Homo sapiens: one gene and its partners. The protein of the gene in region 3 interacts with the protein of the main gene of each other region in a biochemical or structural test. Each region holds a gene or a part of one and is shown on either strand. Other genes may lie near its edges.

The links. Proteins that work in one complex are often made in the same cells at the same time.
Region 1: the proteins of SELE (region 3) and GLG1 form a complex in vitro, tested with the Homo sapiens proteins (2 studies listed by BioGRID and IntAct).
Region 2: the proteins of SELE (region 3) and FLNA form a complex in vitro, tested with the Homo sapiens proteins (one study listed by BioGRID).

What each region holds. Positions count from the first base shown.
Region 1 is NC_000016.10:74,604,091-74,611,042, forward strand, and holds the start of GLG1 (Golgi apparatus protein 1 isoform 3 precursor), read right to left. Parts: upstream 3,025-6,952; 5' UTR 3,005-3,024; coding exon 2,567-3,004; intron 1-2,566. UniProt on the Homo sapiens protein: Binds fibroblast growth factor and E-selectin (cell-adhesion lectin on endothelial cells mediating the binding of neutrophils).
Region 2 is NC_000023.11:154,350,611-154,357,634, forward strand, and holds part of FLNA (filamin-A), read right to left. Parts: intron 7,014-7,024; coding exon 6,824-7,013; intron 6,665-6,823; coding exon 6,641-6,664; intron 4,463-6,640; coding exon 4,215-4,462; intron 4,102-4,214; coding exon 4,006-4,101; intron 3,874-4,005; coding exon 3,771-3,873; intron 3,682-3,770; coding exon 3,541-3,681; intron 3,434-3,540; coding exon 3,305-3,433; intron 3,118-3,304; coding exon 2,944-3,117; intron 2,848-2,943; coding exon 2,686-2,847; intron 2,595-2,685; coding exon 2,391-2,594; intron 2,315-2,390; coding exon 2,162-2,314; intron 2,066-2,161; coding exon 1,943-2,065; intron 1,838-1,942; coding exon 1,571-1,837; intron 1,412-1,570; coding exon 1,274-1,411; intron 1,087-1,273; coding exon 971-1,086; intron 432-970; coding exon 299-431; intron 1-298. UniProt on the Homo sapiens protein: Promotes orthogonal branching of actin filaments and links actin filaments to membrane glycoproteins. Anchors various transmembrane proteins to the actin cytoskeleton and serves as a scaffold for a wide range of cytoplasmic signaling proteins.
Region 3 is NC_000001.11:169,724,072-169,731,095, reverse strand, and holds part of SELE (E-selectin precursor), read left to right. Parts: intron 1-478; coding exon 479-664; intron 665-1,422; coding exon 1,423-1,608; intron 1,609-1,721; coding exon 1,722-1,910; intron 1,911-2,849; coding exon 2,850-3,038; intron 3,039-3,168; coding exon 3,169-3,357; intron 3,358-3,570; coding exon 3,571-3,747; intron 3,748-4,289; coding exon 4,290-4,397; intron 4,398-5,167; coding exon 5,168-5,189; intron 5,190-5,294; coding exon 5,295-5,352; 3' UTR 5,353-5,367; intron 5,368-6,586; 3' UTR 6,587-7,024. UniProt on the Homo sapiens protein: Cell-surface glycoprotein having a role in immunoadhesion. Mediates in the adhesion of blood neutrophils in cytokine-activated endothelium through interaction with SELPLG/PSGL1. May have a role in capillary morphogenesis.

The DNA.
Region 1 (6,952 bases), on a different chromosome or scaffold from region 3:
GGCTTCAGTGAACTCTCAAACCCAGAAGACTGAGGCTGCAGTGAGCTATGACTGCACCACTGCACTCCAGCCTGGATGACAGAGCGAGACCCTGTCTCCATAATAAAAAATTTTTTTTCAGAAAGAAAAGTTCCATAAGGTTCCAAAAAGCAAAAGTTAAGTTTGACATATGCCAAGTACTACAGTGAATCCACATGAATGAACTGATATGTAGGCACTGTACTAGGTATCACAAGTATTTTAGAGAAGACAAGAATTCGGAAGGGTGTGCACAGATGATATGGAAATACGACACCATTTTATACGGTATAAGGTACTTGAGCGTCCTTGGATTTCAATATCTGCAGGAGGCCTGGAACCATCCTCCAGTGATACCAAGGAACAACTGTACTCATATGCTCTGCCTTTTCATAATTCCAATAATGGGTACGGATAGGAAAATGTTCCCTGCATTTGCATGCAAAGGGACAGAAAAGTACATATATCTATTTCACTATCAAATAGTTCTACTTACTGAACAGCAAATACAAAACATATTCTATACATGTTTCTTCAAATGTGCCTAACTAGTTTACTTCTTTAAGTTATGCTCTTTCAAACACATAGATCAGATTTAATTAACTCCCAGACTAAGCAGAATGAAATTTCCTTTCGCTGTCTTTAAAGAAAAAGAAAATAGGGTGGGGGTGGTGGCTCACACCACTAATCTCAGCACTTTGGGAGCCCGAGGCTGGCAGATCACAAGGTCAGGAGATCGAGACCATCCTGGCCAACATGGTGAAACCCTGTCTCTACTAAAAATACAAAAATTAGCTGGGCGTGGTGGCGCTCGCCTGTAGTCCCAGGTACTCAGGTGGCTGAGGCAGAATTGCTTAAAGCCGGGAGGTGGAGGTTGCAGTGAGCCAAGTTCAAGCCACTGCACTCCAGCCTGGCGACAGAGTGAGACTCCATCTCAAAAAAAAGAAAAGAAGTTTAAAAATAACTCCACCTCCTGAAGAATACACATAGGTGTTCACAGTACTCTTCCTTCATTATTTCTGTATGTAAAAACTGGAGGAAAAAACATTAAATTGGAAATTTGGTCCCTCCACCTCCCCCCAACCCCCCAAAACCCCCATTTCCAATTTATATGACGCCTTTCCTCCTCTGGAGCATAAAACTGCCTCCTTTAAGTGGAGGTTTCCAAATGTCCGGAATACACATGAAGGATATATACACTCCTTGAATAGGCCACTTTTTGCCACTTTCCCTAATAATGTGCTGTTTCTACCACAAACTACTACTAATTGTTTGGTCACCAGTATTAGGATCCTAGTTTGATGAAACGACATCTATTATGTGTCCTCAAAGAGCGAAAAGAAAATTCCAAAAAGTTCGACAGAGTTAGGAATATTAGCTGTATCTACCAGAGGACTATCCCTCTAGTCGTTAAGCTGAAGATGAGAAGTCAGGTAAGGCCTCACATTTCTAGGGGCTCTGGAAACTTCCTTTCTTTCTGTCTCCTGCTTATGTATGTCTTTTCCTCTATCTGAATTGCTTTTGTATAGAATACTAGAACACGAGATGAAGGGGGGAAATGCCAAGAGAAGCAAATTTCTACAAGCAAGTGGTCTTGCTATAGCTTGAACGCCTTAAACAAATCTGATATTTAAAAAAAAAACCAAAAACAGTATCAAGTGGTAGCTTCATTCTATTTGTCCACCTTTAGGGCTAATTTTATATACCTACACCTCTGGAAAAAGTTACTACTGTCAGATTTGCTCCCAAACTTTGAGAATTGTCATTATGGTCTGCAGCATTAAACCTAGATTATAAATTATCAATGTCACTTGATTATAAATTATCAATGTCACTCAACTGAATCACACCAAGCAACGACAAATGTAGATTTCATTAAGAGATACTGTTAAAATCACATTCAGACCTCAGAAAGGCAAGATCCCATAACCCAGTCACAAACACAGCTTCAAACGCTTCCCCAACTTTTCAAGCTTTGGGGCGCCAAGTCACTGGGAGTTAACAGCTTAAACATGGGGTTCAATACAACTGACCAAAGGAAGTGAAGAAAACAAAGCATACATTAATTTCAGCACCAAAAATATGGATTTGCGAATTACATCTACTGCTAATAAACAGATCATTCTTTACAGCCTAAGTACGCCAGGCATTTTTTTATGTTTAAATGGCTTGCCACAAATTGTCCTAGTCGAAACTGATGGCAAAATCCTAAACTGATCTTCGGCGAGGAGACACTCTGCATAGAGCATCACACAAAAGACAGGAGCGAACAGACACGCTCTGGGCCTCGGCGGATTGCGGCCAGGAGCCCAGGTTTTCGTCCCAGACCCCGGCAACAGGGAGGGAAATAAGGGCGGGGGAAAGAAGGAGTGGGAGTGGTATCCTTTTCCCTGAAAGCGCCTGGGAGTGAGGAGCAAAGAGGGAAGGAGCGAGTGCAGCACAGAGGAAGCAAGGAAAGCAGCCGACCGGCGTCAGCGGCTTCCAAGGCCGGCAACACCCTCGGGCCCGCACCAGGCCTGGCCCTCCCGGCTTCGTCCCACCTCCTCACCTCCCTCACATCCTGCAGGCACTCGAGCACCGCCAGGTTGTTGCTCCAGGTGTGCTTAGGGCACACGCGGGTCACGTCCTCCCTGCAGGACTCTTCCTCCGCCAGCTTCCAGCCCCCACCAGCCCCCGCTCCTCCCCGCCGGGCCGGAGGCCCACCCGCCGGGAAAGGCGGCTGCGGCGGCTGAGGCTGCTGTTGCTGTTGCTGCTGCTGCTGTTGCTGCTGAAGCTGCGATGACTGAGGCAGCTGGGGCAGCTGCTGACCCGCCGGGCCGCCGCCTCCGGCCTGCCCTACGAAGGACACAAAGTTGGCCCCGGGACCCTGGCCCTGGCTGTGGACGCCCTGGCCGGGGAGTTTCTCGGCCCCGGCCGCGAATAGCAGCAGCAGATGCAGCGCCGCCGACAAGCGGAACATCCTCCGTACACGTCCACACGCCGCCATCTTGAGTCCGCGGCGAGCTCGACGCACTCGCCGGCGCCGCGTATTTAAATGAGGGGGTGGAGACGCTGGGCGTGGCAGCGTGGCCCTGCCGAGCCCCGCCCCGCCGGCGCCGACCCGCGAACCCAGAGTGGGGCGAAGGAGGAGGCCGTGCTGGAAACCGCACACACCCTGGACCGGCGGGCGGGAGAGCGGCGCTCCTTACCCGGGGGGGTTGCTGGGGTTTCTTAAAAAGCCCGGGCAGGGCGGCCTACTCTAATTCCATTTGCTGTCACAAAAAAAAAAATCAAGGGAATTGGGGTTGCCACAACCAAAATGGCCGGTAGAATATGTCGCCGGTTCAATGACTTGGAAAACAAAAACTTTATATGTAGAGGTGAACTTTGCACAACCAGGTGTATTACGGAATCGGAAAGCCTCTCCTTGTATCGCTCCCTCCTTCCTTCCTTCCTTCCATCTGCCTCAGAAGTCTTTCTTAGCCAAAGAGAGAGACAGCATTGAATAGGGTTAAGAGCATAAGTTCTGGGGTAAGAAAAAAAATTAAGGTTATAATCCTTGCTCTGGCAGGGTACGCAAGAGCTCAAATGTAAAGTACCATTGGCAAGATTCGAAATAATAATTTAAGTGCCTGGCCCACAACACTGAACTCAAAAAGTCACAGCCAGTATTGTTAATAAACTGGGAAGCCGTTTATGCATGAATCCTGATTTTAAGCCAGCATTTAGATTCATGTTTAAAGGATGAAAAAATAATAATAAAACACATCTTTGAGGACTCGGGTTAAGTCTGTGTGTCGGTAACTGTTCTCATTGACCTGCATGCAACACCGCAGGCACCCCACACTAGCATCCCCTCCCTGTCCTTAGGAGAGAGGATATGTTCCCAAAGCCTCTTCACATCCGCTGTGTAATCTGAGCCATGCATCAGGCCTGCGTTAGGTTCTCATTTAACTGAAGAATGGCACAGAGATGTTAACAGTTCTGCGTGGAGGGATTAAATGAGCTGCCCAAGAGGAACTCTGCCATCCTGTAGACAGCTAGGCTAGCCACCAGAATCCCTGGGGCTTCCCACCACCCTGGCGCACTTTCATCCCACTCTGTCCATGCACATGTTGGGGAATGAGGGCAGTTTGGGTTGTGTAATCTCCACTGGTCATTGTGTCCAAAAATGCGAATTACATCTACTGTAGTAAACAGACAGCTTCTGCTGTCCTGACCCGCAAATGAGCAGTCAAGACCAAGTTAGACATAACTAGAACCTGAAAAGTCAGGAGCTCAGGGAACCCAAAAGGAGCTCCTGAGACTGAAGATATTCTGTGAGTACAAATTACCCACTGTGGCTGACCCCAGGCCTCTATCATGGGGAATGAGAGCTTGTTGGCATCTCCACCAACGGTCACCTTTGCTACTGTCATAAAATGATCATGAGGCTGCTGCTAACCTTGAGCACTGACTAAGGCAGCCCCATGTTTATTAGCAAACACATGGCATAGGTAAGTTTCAGTCAGGCAGGCTGGACACATCACCAGAAGTCCTTGAGATGTCACTAGCGTATGTTAATTTTTTTTTTTTTTTTTTGAGACGGAATCTCACTCTGTTGCCCAGGCTGGAGTGCAGTGGCGTGATCTCTGCTCGGAGCTGCCACCTCCACCTCCTGGGTTCAAGCAGTTCTCCTGCCTCAGCCTCCGAGTGGCTGGGATTACAGGCATGTGCCACCACACCCAGCTAATTTTTGTATTTTTAGTAGCGACGGGGTTTTGCCATGTTGGCCAGGCTGGTCTCGAACCCCAAACCTCAGGCGATCTGCCCACCTCAGCCTCCCAAAGTGCTAGGATTACAGGCGTGAGGTACTGCGCCTGGCCTCCATTAATTTTCAATGCTGAGTCTGCATGTGTTCAGACAAGTGGGAGATTATTTTAAGCCAGTTTAACTAGAAATTGACAATCCTAGATAAGCCATCAGTTACTTATCTTTCAGCCTGAACTGAGGAAACCACAGCCACAGATTGCCTCCAGAGATAGGGAGGAGTACACATGGCTATCTTGAAATCTCAGTCACCAAGAAGCAAGAAACAGATAAATCTGGGAACCTGGCCAGCTCAGGCTGTCAGGCAAGCGTAGACCTTACGGAAGCCACGAGCCCCCAAACCCACGGAAAGACAGTTGCCTTAACTCAGGTCTTCTGGTCTCATTGCCTTTTCAATATAACATATACTATCTCTATCAGAAACGGGGAATTCTTTTTTCTTTTTTTTTTGAGAGGAGTCACACTGTCGCCAGGCTGAAGTGCAGTGGCGCGATCTCGGCTCACTGCAACCTCTGCCTCCCGGATTCAAGCAATTCTCTTGCCTCAGCCTCCCAAGTAGATGGGACTACAAGTGTGCGCCACCATGCCCAGCTAATTTTTGTATTTTTAGAGACGGGATTTCACCATGTTGGCCAGGAGAGTCTCAATCTCTTGACCTTATGATCCATCCTCCTCGGCCTCCCAAAGTGCTAGGATTACAGGCATGAGCCACTGTGCCCAGCCAAGAAACGGGGAGTTCTTTTTACCCTTTATTGTATCCTTTGTTTCCTGATCCTCACTTTCTTAATTTATTCATCAAGCAGGTATCTGTTGAACATTTTCTTTTTTTTTTTTTTTGAGACGGAGTCTTGCTCTGCCACCCAGGCTGGAGTGCAGTGTTGTGATCTCAGCTCACTGCAACCTCCGCCTCCTGGGTCCAAGCGATTCTCCTGCTGTAGCCTCCCAAGTAGCTGGTATTACAGGCGTGCACCACCACAACCGGCTAGTTTTTGTACTTTTAGTAGAGACGGGGTTTCACCATGTTGGCCATGCTGATCTTGAATTCCTGACCTCAAGGGATCCACCTACCTTGGCCTCCCAAAGTGTTGGGATTACAGGGATAAGCCACCGGGCCCAGCCATGAGCATTTTCCTTGTTTGTTTTCAGACGGGGTCTCCCTCTGTCACCCAGGCTAGAGTGCAGTGGCATGATAATTGTGGCTCACTGCAGCCCCAACCTCCTGGGCTCAAGCAGTCTTCCCGCCTCAGCCTCCTAAGTAGCTGGGACTACCGGTGTGTGCCACCACGCCCAGCTAATTATTTTTTTTTTGTAATTTTAGTATTTTTTTTTGTTTTTGAGACAGGGTCTTGTTCTGTCACCCAGACTACAATATAATGGCATGATCATGTTCACTGCATCCTCAGCCTCCCAAGCTCAAGTGATCCTTCCACCTCAGCTTCCCAAAGTGCTGGGATTACAGGTGTCAGCCCTGCACCTGGGCTGTTGAGAATTTGTTCTTTTATTATTATTATTATTATTATTATTATTATTATTATTATTATTATTTGAGATGGAGTGTTTCACTCTTGTTGCCCAGGCTGCTGTGCAATGGCATGATCTCAGCTCTGCAACCTCTGCCTCCCGGGTTCAAGTGATTCTCCTGCCTCAGCCTCCCCAAGTAACTAGGATTACAGGCGCCTGCCACCACGCCCAGCTAGTTTTTGTATTTTTAGTAGAGAGAGATTTCACCATGTTGACCAGGCTAGTCTCGAACTCCTGACTTCAGGTGATTGCCTGCCTCGGCCTCCCAAGTGCAACCATGAAAAGAGGACTCTAAGTGTTCCAAAATCAGACATTAATAACTAGTTCAAGATTCTAAGGAGGTGGGAATAAGCATTCAAAATGAAGGCCTGCTAGGCATGGTGGCTCACACCTACCTGTAATCCCAGCACTTTGGGAGGCCGAGGCGGGTGGATCACCTGAGGTCAGGCCTTTACTAAAAATACAAAAATTGGCTGGGCATAATGGTGCAACCTATAGTCCCAGTTACTCAGGAGGCTTACGCGGGAAGATCACTTGAAAGCGGCAAGTGGAGGTTGCAGTGAGCTGAGATTATGCCACTGCACTCCAGCCTGGGTGACAGAGTGAGATCCTGTCTCAGAAAAAT
Region 2 (7,024 bases), on a different chromosome or scaffold from region 3:
CCTGTGCACAAGTACCATGGCCGTGGCTGAAGGGCCGGGCAGCACTGAGGCTGGACTTTGAGTCTTTCCCTGTGGAGATGGCATGGTACTGCAGGGTAGAAGGCCTTCCTAATAGCTGTGGGTGGCGAGCCACATCCCCAGCGGCTTGGGTCACCAATTGGGAAAGGGTTGCCTGGCTTAGGGGGCCCAGGAGTTGGGGCCCCGTCTTGGCTGCTTACAGAAGCGGTACCTTCCTTTTGTACTCTCAGCCTGCTTCCAGCCAGCAGGGCAGGGCGGCCGGGCAGGGACAGGGCCTCACCTTGGTCAATTTCTGTGACATAGCACTCCTCCAGGGCTCCTGAGGGGCTGTGCACCTTGGCATCGATCGCCCCCTTGGCCCCGTTCAGGCTGACTGCAAAAGAGGCTGGCTGGTTGACCTTTAGCCCTGACTCCTGGAAGCACAGCAGACATGGTTAGATGGGGGTGCTTGAGCCAGGGCAAGGGAGGACGGAAAGGCCCCAGGAGCAAGAGGCCCGCGGGTCGCACTTACCCATCTGGCGTCCAACTTGGTTTAAAGAGGGAGAGCCACTGATTTGCAAGGGGCAGCAAGCCACAGGCGCACATCCCCGCCCCTGCCCCCACACTCTGCCGTCGCACACACCCAGGTGGCAGGAAGGGAGGGCTGCCCCACCCTGTGGGCAGCACCCAGCCTTGGCAGGCTGTCCCTCTTTAAACCGCAGCCCTGGTGCTCAAGGGGCACAGGCTTCTGTTCAAAGCCTTTAGACCTGAGACACGAGAAAAACTCCACGTGGTGGGCAGGATATTTCCTGCCGACCCCAAGCGTGGGCTGCACCCGGCCAGAGCAGAGGCCTGGAACCCAGAGCTGGGCCAGGGGGGTCACTGAACACAGGGCCAAGGCCTGGTCTCTGCGGTGGCTCTGGTCTGTCCGGGCCCAGGAGCCCCAGGTGGGCGGTTTCTCTCGGTGCCTCACCTGAAGGCTAGAAACAGTGAGGCGGCGGGCGTCGCCAGACGGAGAAGCCACAGGCACCACGAAGGGGCTGTCGGGAATGTGTTCCTCGTTGAACTTGACTGAGACTTCGTAGTCACCTGGGCAGGGAAAGAGTGTAAGACCGGCTCATCAGCCTTTGGGCCTCCCACCTCCCACGAACAGCCTGGGTGGCCCTGTGACCTCAAAGTGAAGAGTGAGTGCCAGGCAGGGCTATCTGTGCCAGCCCTGGGTCCAATACCCACACTCAGGCCCCACCTCCTCCAACCCCAGCCGGGTTCCCAGTACCTGGCTCCTGGACCACATAAGCCACACCACAGGAGCCGTCCTTGCGGTCCTCAAAAGAGATCTCAGCCTTGCTGGGGCCCTCGACAGCAATGGCCAGGCCTCCAGCACCAGCTTCCCGGGTCCAGATACTGAATTCGGCTGTGGGAGAACAGTTTGTCCTCACTGAAGGCTGCTTCACCAGCCTCGGCCCCCTCCAGGCATAGCCAAGGTAGACATGCCTGCCGGCTCTTTCCTCCACCCCCAACCCCACCCTGGCCAACGCAGGAGAGCGAGCACTCGGGGTGTGAGCAGGCCTACCTGGCACTCCAGCTTCAGCTCTCTCCAGGCCAGGGCCCCCAGCTCGGACCTTGTGGGCTCCCCCTTCCCCTAGGGGCCCCACGGTGAACTGGAAGGGGCTCCCAGGCACGTGCTGGCCCTTGTACTTCACGCTGACTGTGTGTGTGCCCATCTCAGCGGGAACAAAGCGGATGCAGTAGGTGTGGTTCTCCCCTTCCACGATCTCGGCCTCATGGGTCTTGCCCGATGGGCTGGTCACCTGGGCTGTCATATCCTGGATGCTAATTTCTGCAGGGTGGGGATGGGCTAGTGAGCAGCAGCCCTGGGCTCCACCCCTCCTCTTGGGGCTGCTTGAGCCCCAGGACCCCTCCCCAGGCTTCCCACAGCCCCTACCAGGGATTTTCAGGCTGAGGTCACAATGACTACCAACGTTGGCCACTGAAGGAGCCCGACGCCTGCGGGTGATGCTCTCTTTCACCCGGCCCTCGCCTGTCACCTTCACAGAGAAGGGGCTGCCTGCAGGAAGAAAGCACGGCCCACGCCCCTCCAGTCACATACTGCCTGTGGGCCCTGGTGTAGTGAGGGGGGCTGCCGAGGCACTGCTGCACTCACCAGGCACGTGCTGGTCGGCAAACTTGATGTTGATGATGTAGTTGCCTGGCTCTGTGGGGCAGTAGGTGACCCTGCACGTCCCGTCCTCCAGGTCCTCTGTGTTGATGTCCACCTTGCTGGGGCCCTCAATGGACAGGCTGAGCCCACCATAGCCTAGGGGATGGATACCCCTGAGCCTCGGTGCTATGCACAGTGCTCCCGCCCCAGCTGGTGGGCAGCCACTGCCTACCTGCATCGCGGGTATCAATGATAAACTCTGCAGGCTCAAAGGTGTGGCCTTCGTGAAGGCCCTGACCAGAGACCCGAACACGACTGGCATCCCCAATTTCCGACTGGCTGATCACCACCGGGATGGGGCTGCTGGCCACGTGCTGGCCATTTTTCTTCACATGCACCAGGTGCTCCCCCGTCTCCTTGGGCACGAATGAAATCCCTGGACACAGGGCATGGCTGTCAGTCAGGGAGGGCATGGCTCCCCACAGGCTGCCTCCTTTCTGAACCCCCTGGACCCTTCAGCCGCTTACCCACGTGGCCATTACGCAGCCGCTTCAGCAAACAGGGCTCCTCCCGGCCCGAGGGCGGGACCACAGTGGCCGTCAGCAGGCTGAGATCCGTCTCTGAGATGTTGATGGGGATGTCGGCAGCAGAGCCGACCTTTAGGTGGGACATACGCATGGAGTCGTCACCTGGTGGGGACAGGCCAGCCATCAGTGTGCGTCCAGCCATGGGAGACCATGCCCACCCTGCCACCCGTTTCTGTCACTGCTCCCAGTGCCACCCACCTGTGACCCGAGCAGTGAAGGGGCTGCCTGGGACGTGCTGTTCATTGTACTTGACTAGAATGCTGTAGTCCCCCGGCAGCACAGGCAGGTAGGACACGCTGCATGTCCCATCCTGGTTGTCAGTGCAGCTGATTTCTGCTTTGGACGGGCCCTCAATGGCCAGAGACAGGCCCCCTGGAGAGAGCCGTGGGTGAGCATGGGAACTATGCTGGGGACACTCCAGTTGGCCTGCACTGAGGAGCTCCGATGGCCAGGGCAGCAGGGCAGGGAGCCCCATTCAGGAGTATCTCCTGAGTCCAGCCCTTACCCCGGTGAGGGCATCCCGGGCACAGAGCAGGTCAAGACCAGAGCTATTGCTCACCCTCTCCTGCATCCTTGGTGTTGACGGTGAAGGTGGCAGGCTTGTTCACTACTCCATGGGTGAGGCCAGGCCCATAGGCAGTGACATGGCCACAGTTGACGTAATCCACATAGAACTGCAAGGGGCTTCCTGAGGCAGGAAGAAGGGCCTTGTGGAATGGCAGCCTCGTGTGTCCCCCAGCCCCATCTCTCTGTGAGGTGGTGGCGGTGGAGTGGGCAGAGGCAGGGCAGGCCCACCTGGGATGTGCATGTTGTCATAGCGGATGTCCATCTCGTGCAGGCCAGCCTCGCTGGGTGCATACCGCACGGTCACGGTGCCGTCTTTGTTGTCAGTGATGGTGGGCTGCGCCACCTTGCCTGAGGGCATCCGAACCTCCCCTGTGGGGCAGTGGGGCTGAGGTCAGGGCAGCTCATTGGCACAGTCTGGCCTCCTTGGCTCCCGAGCTCCTTCCCAAGTCCCCACTCACCTGTGATCTCGCCCTTCTTGATGGTGAAGGGGATGACAAGGTCAAAGGGCCTCAGGCTGGTCACATCCAGCCCATTGACACCCACCAGGGGCCTCTCCGGGGCCTGCAGTGGAGACACAGGGCATGGGTGAGGGACAGTGGGAGGATCTGGGGTCCCTCCTCACACATGGTAAACTAGGGGCTCACAGAACACCCAGCTGGCTAGCCCCAGTGTCCCTAGCTGGCCAGGCCGTACCCAAGTCTGCTGGCCGCCCTGGGCGTAGGTGTACTGTGGGGCCAGCTGCTGAGACCGTAGAGGGGGCTGCACCGAGGGCTGGTCCCCAGCCAGAGCCTGCAGGGCAAAGCAGAGAGCTGCTGGAGAGTCTGTTGTCACAGAGGGGCCCCAGGGGAACAGGCCGGGACCTGCCAGACACCCCTGCTGACCTACCCCCCACCCCTCCTCACCGTCACTTGGAAGGGGCTGTTGGGCACGTGCTCGCCACCAAAGCGCACACAGATGACGTATTTGCCCGGCTGGGGGGCCGTGTAGAAGATGTCGAAAGTGCCGTCCTCATTCTCCACCACGTCCACATCCACCTCTGAGCCATCAGGCGTGCACACGGTGCACGTCACTTTGCCTTTGCCTGCCGCCTTAGTGTCCACAGTGATCACCGTCTCCTCCCCAATCTGAATGGTGGGGCCGATGCCAGCACCTGGTGGGGCAGGGTGGGTCCCCAAAGGGGGGCCAGCGTGTGAGCTCGGGTTCAGGTTGTTCCCGTCCGCCTGCCGCCCACACAGGCCTCTCATTGCCACCACCAAGCACAGCCAGGCCGCCAGGCCTCCTGCCCCGCCCTGCCCCTCCAAGCTGGGATGGCGAGTGGTTTCTCAGAAGGCAGGAAGGTTTCTCCTGACCACCTCAAGTGCCCATGTGGGAGAGGCCCGACAGTAGCACCCAGGTGCCTGGGAGGAAAAGGAAGGGCCCACTCCAGCCTAAGTGTTGACAGCCACTCCCTTGCCTACTCAGCCTCGTCCAGCACCATGGCCCACACTGCTGAACGCCAGCATCTGGCTGGGCACACGGCTGCCTGCGCCCTTCTGGCCTGGCCCCGGCCCCCATTGCTGTGTGTGGACGCGGTGAGGCGGAGTCCTGCTGCAGCGTGGGGGGATGTGACACTTGCCTCCCCACCCCCCAGGCCTGATGGTGAAACCGGAGTTTCCTGACAACTGAGAAGGCTCGCGGTGAAAAGCAGCCCGGTGCAGACAGGAGTGGGAGCGGGGAAGCGGGAGGCAGCGGGGTTAGCACCCGAGTAGCGCAGCGCAGCAGGCTTGGCAGAGCGGGGATAGCACCCAGGGAGACAGGGAACAGGAGGCCCAAGCTACAGCCACCACTGCTGGGTTGCGAGGGCAGAGCAGCTGAGCAGGCTCCAGGGCCCCAGAGTGCCCGAGGAAAGGGGAGAGACAGTGACGTTATGATCTGGGTCTCCGCCGTGGAGGCTTGGGGGGCTGTGGGCTGTGAGGCCTGGCAGTGAGAGTGCCCCCTGCAGCCTGGCCTCCTGCCAGGGAAGCAGCCAGGAGCACGAAACCTACTTGAAGGCCAAGCTCGAGGGGCCCTGCCACCAAGTCCCACTATCGGCCGAGGGCTCCTGCTGCACTAGGCTCCATGCTGGCCTGCCGCGGCCAGGCAGCTCTCCCAGGCTCCAGACCTGGCTGCCGGCTGCCCACGCTGCCCTGGGAGGCTTCACTCATGTGCACCCCATGCCATCTAGTTAGTGGCTTGGGCCCCAACCTCACAGGTACCCGACTGCCCCCACTTTCCCTGCCCGGCTCCCAGCCAACCGCAGGTCTCAGCCACTCCATCCTCAAAGTATGCCTCCTAATTTGGCTCTCACTGAAGCCCCGTGGCCGTCAAGCTTGCCAGAGAGCAACTTCAGCGCCCCCTTCCCCACCCCGGGCTCCCTGTCTCCATTCTGCAAACAGTAGCCAGGGAAACTGAGGTTACTGAGTCTTGCTCCCACCCTCAAAGCCCCCAAGGCCCTGCAATCAGTACTCCCCAGCCTCCCCCGCCCTGCGCACACACGCCTGTCACACACACATCGGATCCTACGGCCTGCTCTATAAAGCCATCTCGCTCCTGCCGCAAAACTCTAGCCACCCTCTCACCCTTTCCTTAGCCACCTCGCCCAAGTGCCAGGCCTGTAGCCTCTCATCAGCATCCCTGGGTGTCCCTGGCTGGGGCAGGTGACCCTCCATGCCTGTTGGGGAATGTCTGAATAACGTCACTGCTGGGGGATAGGGGAAGGGGGAAGGAGGGAGACGGGCCACAGAATGCACTTTGGGGCTCTGAGGCTGGGCCGGGCCCCGCCATGCTGGCCGCCCAAGCAGTCGACACTGGCGCTACTGCACTACCAGCCAGCCCCACCCGCTCATGCACCTCCCCCGGCCCGGGACGCAGAGGCCCCTGGAAGGTGGGGATGGGGGTCTGTGGATCTGGCCAGGGCTGGGGCTCCCATTGAGTTGGGGAGACCCCTTGTTCCCTCAGCCCACGCAGGAGCCCTTGTGCCTCCCTGGGTGCCAAGATCCCGAGACCCCAAAGTCCCCAGTGGGGTGCCTCTCAGGATGCACCTCACCCCAAAGCTCTCAGCTGCAACCCGAGTTCTCAGATGGGGAAATAAAGGCCCAGAGAGGGGAAGAGCTGGAGCGGTCATGCTCAGCTCCGGAAGCCTCCCTGGGCCCTCGCCCTCCAGCCCACGGCCTCATCTTCTGCACCCCACCCAACTCTGTCCCTGCCTAGAGCTGCAGCTGGAACTGTCCTGGGAATCGGCCCCAAGAGGAAAGGAAGCTGCCCCTCTGGGCAGGAGGGGCATTGGGAGTGGCCCCAGCAAGCAGCTTACCTAGCCCGTGACCTCCGATTGACACTGAGGTGAGAGGGCAGAGAGCAAGGAGAAAGGTCAGGTGAGTCACTCAAGGGGGCGGCCCCCACTCCCACACGCCGCCCCAAGCAGCGAGCCCTTGCACACAGGCACAACCCAAGCCCCGTGCCGAGCGCCGCAGCGGCCAACAGCGGGCGGGCTCACCTGTGACAGTGCACTTGCTGGCGTCCCCGGTGGGCACGGCACGCACGCGGTACGGGGAGAAGGGGATCTCGTCACCACCGTACTTGATGAGGATGGTGTAGCGACCTGTCACGTCTGGCACGTAGGCCACTGTATACGTGCCGTCATGGTTGTCTTGGATGTGTGTCTTCTTCGGCTTGCCTTCGGGATCCTGTGTGGCAG
Region 3 (7,024 bases):
GTGGCTACTATAGTAGACAGTGCAGCATTAGGGTTTTAAAATTTGTAATGTATTCTAGTACTTAAATTTGAAATATAGCTTTGTGAATGGTTCTCATCCTGGTTGGAAGCTTACTGTAGTATTTTTAGCAGTTGTGAGAAAAGTAACAAGAAATTTGTTGTGGTACCTAAGTTTGCTGTGTTTGTTCATATAATTTGAACAGTTTTGAGGTAAACACAATTACACTACTCTCCCCATATCACTCAATATTTCTTTTTTATGGTTGTCATCACTGCTTTTTTGTTGTTGTTGTTATGGATCAGCATTTTCTTGAATAAAAGAAAAGGGGTAGAATTACAGTCAATTTTACAAATTCCATTAGAAATTTTATAAATTTTTAAACTAAAAAAAAAAAAAACCAAACTGTAGTTCTAGTTTCCAGTGTTCTTATCTGTTAAAGGTGAGAGATGAGCAGAACTGATTTGGGTTTCTTTTTCAGTTGTGAACTGTACAGCCCTGGAATCCCCTGAGCATGGAAGCCTGGTTTGCAGTCACCCACTGGGAAACTTCAGCTACAATTCTTCCTGCTCTATCAGCTGTGATAGGGGTTACCTGCCAAGCAGCATGGAGACCATGCAGTGTATGTCCTCTGGAGAATGGAGTGCTCCTATTCCAGCCTGCAATGGTAAATCCCTCTGAGAATGCACAGAACGTTCTGTAACTCATCCCTCATTGCTTCTGTTTTTTGATTCAACTTACATTTTCAAAACTTCAGGGAAAGTTTTTTTTTTGTTTTTGTTTTTAATACAATTTGTTCTCTCAGCCAATGTATATTGCCAACCCAGTACCTGCTTGGGTTGAGAGAGGTTTTTTTATTCTATGCTTGAAATGGGTGTTTCTGAGGCTCTGGTGATTTGTAAGGGAGACCATAAAACAATAAAGCTCTAGAAATCTCAATGGATTTCTCATCTTGTTTCCCTGTTTAACTTTTCCAAGCCATGGGACTAACTTAAGACCATGATAGTCAAGCAGTCTTAGTATCTCTTTTTCTCTCTTAATTTTATCTTTCTGAACCAGAGGCCAAAAAAAGAAAAATCAGTTCTTCAGGCTCTGATGGGCTAAAATAAATGAATAGCCTACGTATGTCAGTACTAGTCATAACTCCTAATCTGGAATCTATTTTTTTTAAATTTTTACCTCACGTAAATGATAACATAGATTAGAGACCACTCAGCATAGGCAAAGTGGAAATCAGAAAAGATAGAATATCCATGAAAAAGAATAAAAGCTTTTATTCTGGCTGTGCATGTCCCTAAGAATTGACATAGGACTTTGGGATCTACCCTTTGAAGGCAGCTTCCTCACTCTGTTAGGCACCCAGCTCAATAGGAAGTGAAAAGATCATTCTTCTGTAAAATTCATGGTGCTCTTTAAAATCCTCAGTGGTTGAGTGTGATGCTGTGACAAATCCAGCCAATGGGTTCGTGGAATGTTTCCAAAACCCTGGAAGCTTCCCATGGAACACAACCTGTACATTTGACTGTGAAGAAGGATTTGAACTAATGGGAGCCCAGAGCCTTCAGTGTACCTCATCTGGGAATTGGGACAACGAGAAGCCAACGTGTAAAGGTAGAGTTGTTCCACATGGAGACTTACTGTGAACATTCTTTCTCTCAACCCATACTGGAAATGGGCAAGCTAATTCTAGGCCGTGCTAATATCAATGCGTATATTTGTTACAGCTGTGACATGCAGGGCCGTCCGCCAGCCTCAGAATGGCTCTGTGAGGTGCAGCCATTCCCCTGCTGGAGAGTTCACCTTCAAATCATCCTGCAACTTCACCTGTGAGGAAGGCTTCATGTTGCAGGGACCAGCCCAGGTTGAATGCACCACTCAAGGGCAGTGGACACAGCAAATCCCAGTTTGTGAAGGTAAGCTTGAGATCCTTCGATTTATACTTTCTTAAAGAACAACCATCTTCAAACTTGGACAGTGAAAAAAAAAACCAATACCCACTTTAACTATAGAAATCAGATTTGATGAGCAACCCTCGTATCTTTGAGATTCATTTAAAAGAACTAATGTTTGGCCAGGGAAAGGATCATATGTGTTAAGAATGAATTCTTTGCTGTTTTTTTTTAACTGTGATGTGCTGATAAAACTTTGTAGACATTAGCATGGAATAGACAGAATTCTTAATCTAAAGGAATCATATTAGAAAATTCGGAAAGCAGAATAATGAGAACATGATTTGAATGTAAAACTCTCATCACACCTGTCTTCTGAAATGGCTCATAATTAGCAGTGATGAGACTGTTTCAAGCATGGTGTCAGCTACAGAGATAGTATTGATGCATATATAAGCAGTAAATTTTAATTCACTTTAAAGTGAGAGCAAGGATATTGAAAACAAGCAGTTTTTACTATCAGGCACTGGCCTTGTCCTAGCCAAAGCCAGCACAGAATGATTTCCAGTAGCAAAACATAACACAAAAACCAAACTGCAAAACAGACAAATTTTATAGGGGTGCTTTCTTTTCTTTCTTTTTGGCACCATCTATAAACATCCATGACCCATATGTTGTCCTCAGACTGCGTGAAATCTTTCCTTGGACCATAATTTATTTTGTGTGTTAGAAGAACAGTGCTCAGGAACTAATGTTCTGATTAATTAGTCTTTTAATTAGTGCCATGATCAGTGAGGGGGCTGAAATTCAAAGAAAACACAGCCATCTTCCCATTTGTCCAGGGAATTATAAAGAATCTTCAGTTCTCCAAGTGTTGCTTGAATGAACTGGGTTCACTCAACAAACGCCAAGTACTCTCTAGTTCCACTGCAATATTTTCTGACCATCATTTTGATGTCTCAGCTTTCCAGTGCACAGCCTTGTCCAACCCCGAGCGAGGCTACATGAATTGTCTTCCTAGTGCTTCTGGCAGTTTCCGTTATGGGTCCAGCTGTGAGTTCTCCTGTGAGCAGGGTTTTGTGTTGAAGGGATCCAAAAGGCTCCAATGTGGCCCCACAGGGGAGTGGGACAACGAGAAGCCCACATGTGAAGGTACAGTCTTTGTTTTTATTTTATTTTAAGATAAAAAGAACTATTGAAGAGCTTGGGAACTTGGTTACCTTGGGAAACGTATTGCTGGAGATGCAAACAAACTTCTAAAGTGCTCTCTCGTGTGTTCCAGCTGTGAGATGCGATGCTGTCCACCAGCCCCCGAAGGGTTTGGTGAGGTGTGCTCATTCCCCTATTGGAGAATTCACCTACAAGTCCTCTTGTGCCTTCAGCTGTGAGGAGGGATTTGAATTACATGGATCAACTCAACTTGAGTGCACATCTCAGGGACAATGGACAGAAGAGGTTCCTTCCTGCCAAGGTAGAATTGAGTGCAGACTTTTTTAGGGTACAGGTCAAATACTTCATAAAGTTTCTGAACCTAGATTGCCCCAAAGGGGTTTGGTCCTAATTTCCTACATGCTGAAAACTAAGTAGCGCTTACACTTTACATTCATTGTTGACTTTTAAGCAAGTTTTGGAAGTTTTCCAGTAGATTTTTCTGAAACTCTGCCTGTGTACCTAACATTTGCAGTGGTAAAATGTTCAAGCCTGGCAGTTCCGGGAAAGATCAACATGAGCTGCAGTGGGGAGCCCGTGTTTGGCACTGTGTGCAAGTTCGCCTGTCCTGAAGGATGGACGCTCAATGGCTCTGCAGCTCGGACATGTGGAGCCACAGGACACTGGTCTGGCCTGCTACCTACCTGTGAAGGTGATGCATTGATTGATGGTGGTTGTCTGGTGATTAAAAAGAAAAAGGGGGAGCTATCTTGTTACAGTAATCAACTATTCATTATATCCAAACCAGAAAGTTCGCCCAGGTTGACAAGTTGTGAATATTAAGTTGTATGGGGATAGAGAAAAAACAGAAGTTGCATGTTGATGGAAAGGGTAGAATTCTGACAACTGGAAAAAGGAGACAGAGAGAGGAGAGGAGAAAGGGGAAATGGAAAACAAGAGGGAGTGAGAGCAAGAGAGCAAGCAAGTGCAGTGTTTATTAACCAAGGTGTGGTGTGGTATTGTGAACGAGCTTGGCAAGTTAGAGTTCTGCCTGCCAATGGTGGAAATAGCTTCAAAGGTGGCTTGGAGCAGATCTCAAAGGCCTGTAATGCCACATCTCTGCTTCTTGTATTAAACTAGATAGCTCTTCTGCTCCTAGTAATGAATGTACAGAAAAAAGGCCAAAGGGACAGGACGGAGAGACTTTAACATCAATTCTTCCTCATGACCTTTCTTCGTCTCTTACTTCCTTAGCTCCCACTGAGTCCAACATTCCCTTGGTAGCTGGACTTTCTGCTGCTGGACTCTCCCTCCTGACATTAGCACCATTTCTCCTCTGGCTTCGGAAATGCTTACGGAAAGGTGAGGAAGTTTATGAATGTACTTCAAAAATGTTTTTGAAAATACATTTCTTTCTCATTGATAAGTCATGGTCTTGCTTACTGATTTAAACAATAATTAGAATCTGGATAAAATGCAGTATAATTAAGCAGAAGTATTAAGAAAAGAGTTAGTAGTACAACTCAGTGTGGGAAGTGTTTCAGGAAATAAAAATGTTAGTCGTGCCTAATATTGTACAACTCCAGGGGGTGCTATTCATGTTGAATTATATGATGCCTCCCGGAATTGTGCAATGGAACTGCCATGATGAGCACTCTAAGGAAAATGGATAAAATTCTTCCTAAGGAGATTTATTTGGAGTACAGGCTTAAATTTGAGAGTCTCTCATAAGGAATATGGAAGCACATCTGACTACACTCATGGTTTGTTTGGCTTACATGTTTAAGAGTACTTAAAACATTTTTGAGTTAAGTTCTGACGTTTACAAAATAGGAAATCTCACATTTAAATTAAGACTTTGGACTTCTCATGAAAAATTGGGAGCTGAATTGGGCAAGATGACCCCGTAGCTATTTGCTGGCATTAGGAAGCTGCTATGCCCTTTGGATGGCTGTGCACTTTGCATTTTACCCTAGATGCCACAGAGCCATGCTTGTGCTCTGATTATTACAGAGGCCCTGAAGCATCGAGTTTGCAACACTTGATGAATTAAGTCATATTGTATCTGGATTTAATATATCCTTAAAAGTCATTTAGTCTGAATTAATGGTTGTTTGTCTTTTCTTTTGCAGCAAAGAAATTTGTTCCTGCCAGGTAAGTTGCATTCTTATACAAAGCATGCCATTGAACATTCCACATATTTTTCTCTCTTCATGTTGGAAGACAGTGCTTTACCTAGTGTTCTCATGTATTCCACAGCAGCTGCCAAAGCCTTGAATCAGATGGAAGCTACCAAAAGCCTTCTTACATCCTTTAAGTTCAAAAGAATCAGGTAAGACTTGTAAATCACAAATGGTTATGAGAGAGGTATCTTCTCTACATGCTCTGTTTCTCCTTGAACCCTCCAAACTTGCCAATATCTTAGGGAGGGAGCAGGGGAGAAATCATCACCTGGGTATTGTTCTGGAAAGTTGCTTTATTTTTTGTAGAAGGAGAGGAAAGAAACGGATCTAGCTTTATTGTGTAATTTCATTTATGATAGATAATAATAATGAAGATAGCTGACCCTTACATTGCACTTATTATATTCTGGGAATTTTTCTAAGCTAGGAACTCTGAGATAGGGGCTGGTACTATATTTCTTATCTTTTCTTTTTACTTTTTTTTTTTTTAATTTTGAGATGGAGTCTCATTCTGTTGCCTAGACTGGAGTGCAGTGGCATGATCTTGGCTCACTGCAACCTCCACCTCCTGCGTTCAAGCAATTCTCCTGCCTCAGCCTCCTGAGTAGCTGGGATTACAGGTGCCTGCCACCACACCCAGCTAATTTTTGTATTTTTAGTAGAGATTTTGTATTTTTTCGTCATGTTGGCCAGGCTGATCTTGAACTCCTGATCCACCCGCCTTGGCCTCTCAAAGTGCTGGGATTACAGGCGTGAGCCACTGGGCCTGGCCTGTTACTTTATTTCTTATCACACAGATGAAGAAAATGAGACAGAGAAGTTAAGTAAATTGTCTGAAATCTCAAAGCTAGTAAGTGGTGTAGCCAGGATTCAAACTCTGGCAGTCTGGTTCTAAAATTTGTGTTCTTAACTACTCCGACCTGCTTTGAGAGAATTTGGAAAGGTCAAGTCCCTCTGAATACTTTTTAAAAAATTAAAATAACTTTTTTTGTGTGTGCGGTTTTAAGTTTACAGAAAAATTGAGCAGAAAGCACAAAGAGTTCCAACATATCTCCCCACCACCCCTTCAATTCCCCCTGTTATTAACATCTTATATTAGTGTTACAACTGATGGGCCAATATTGATACATTATTATTCATTAATGTCCACAGGCTACATTAGAATTCACTCTGTGCTGTGTTGTATATTCTGTAGGTTTTGACAGAGGTATAATATGTAGACATCATCACTGTCCTAACTGAATAGAATTCGATGTTCCTACATGGTCTATCCTAGTGAGAGTGTCTGTGTTAGAAGGTACATTTTGTTGTCATGATCAGTATGCAGAATATTAAGTGTTCTGATGACATGCATGTTTATATTTACAGAAACAGGTGCATCTGGGGAACTAGAGGGATACACTGAAGTTAACAGAGACAGATAACTCTCCTCGGGTCTCTGGCCCTTCTTGCCTACTATGCCAGATGCCTTTATGGCTGAAACCGCAACACCCATCACCACTTCAATAGATCAAAGTCCAGCAGGCAAGGACGGCCTTCAACTGAAAAGACTCAGTGTTCCCTTTCCTACTCTCAGGATCAAGAAAGTGTTGGCTAATGAAGGGAAAGGATATTTTCTTCCAAGCAAAGGTGAAGAGACCAAGACTCTGAAATCTCAGAATTCCTTTTCTAACTCTCCCTTGCTCGCTGTAAAATCTTGGCACAGAAACACAATATTTTGTGGCTTTCTTTCTTTTGCCCTTCACAGTGTTTCGACAGCTGATTACACAGTTGCTGTCATAAGAATGAATAATAATTATCCAGAGT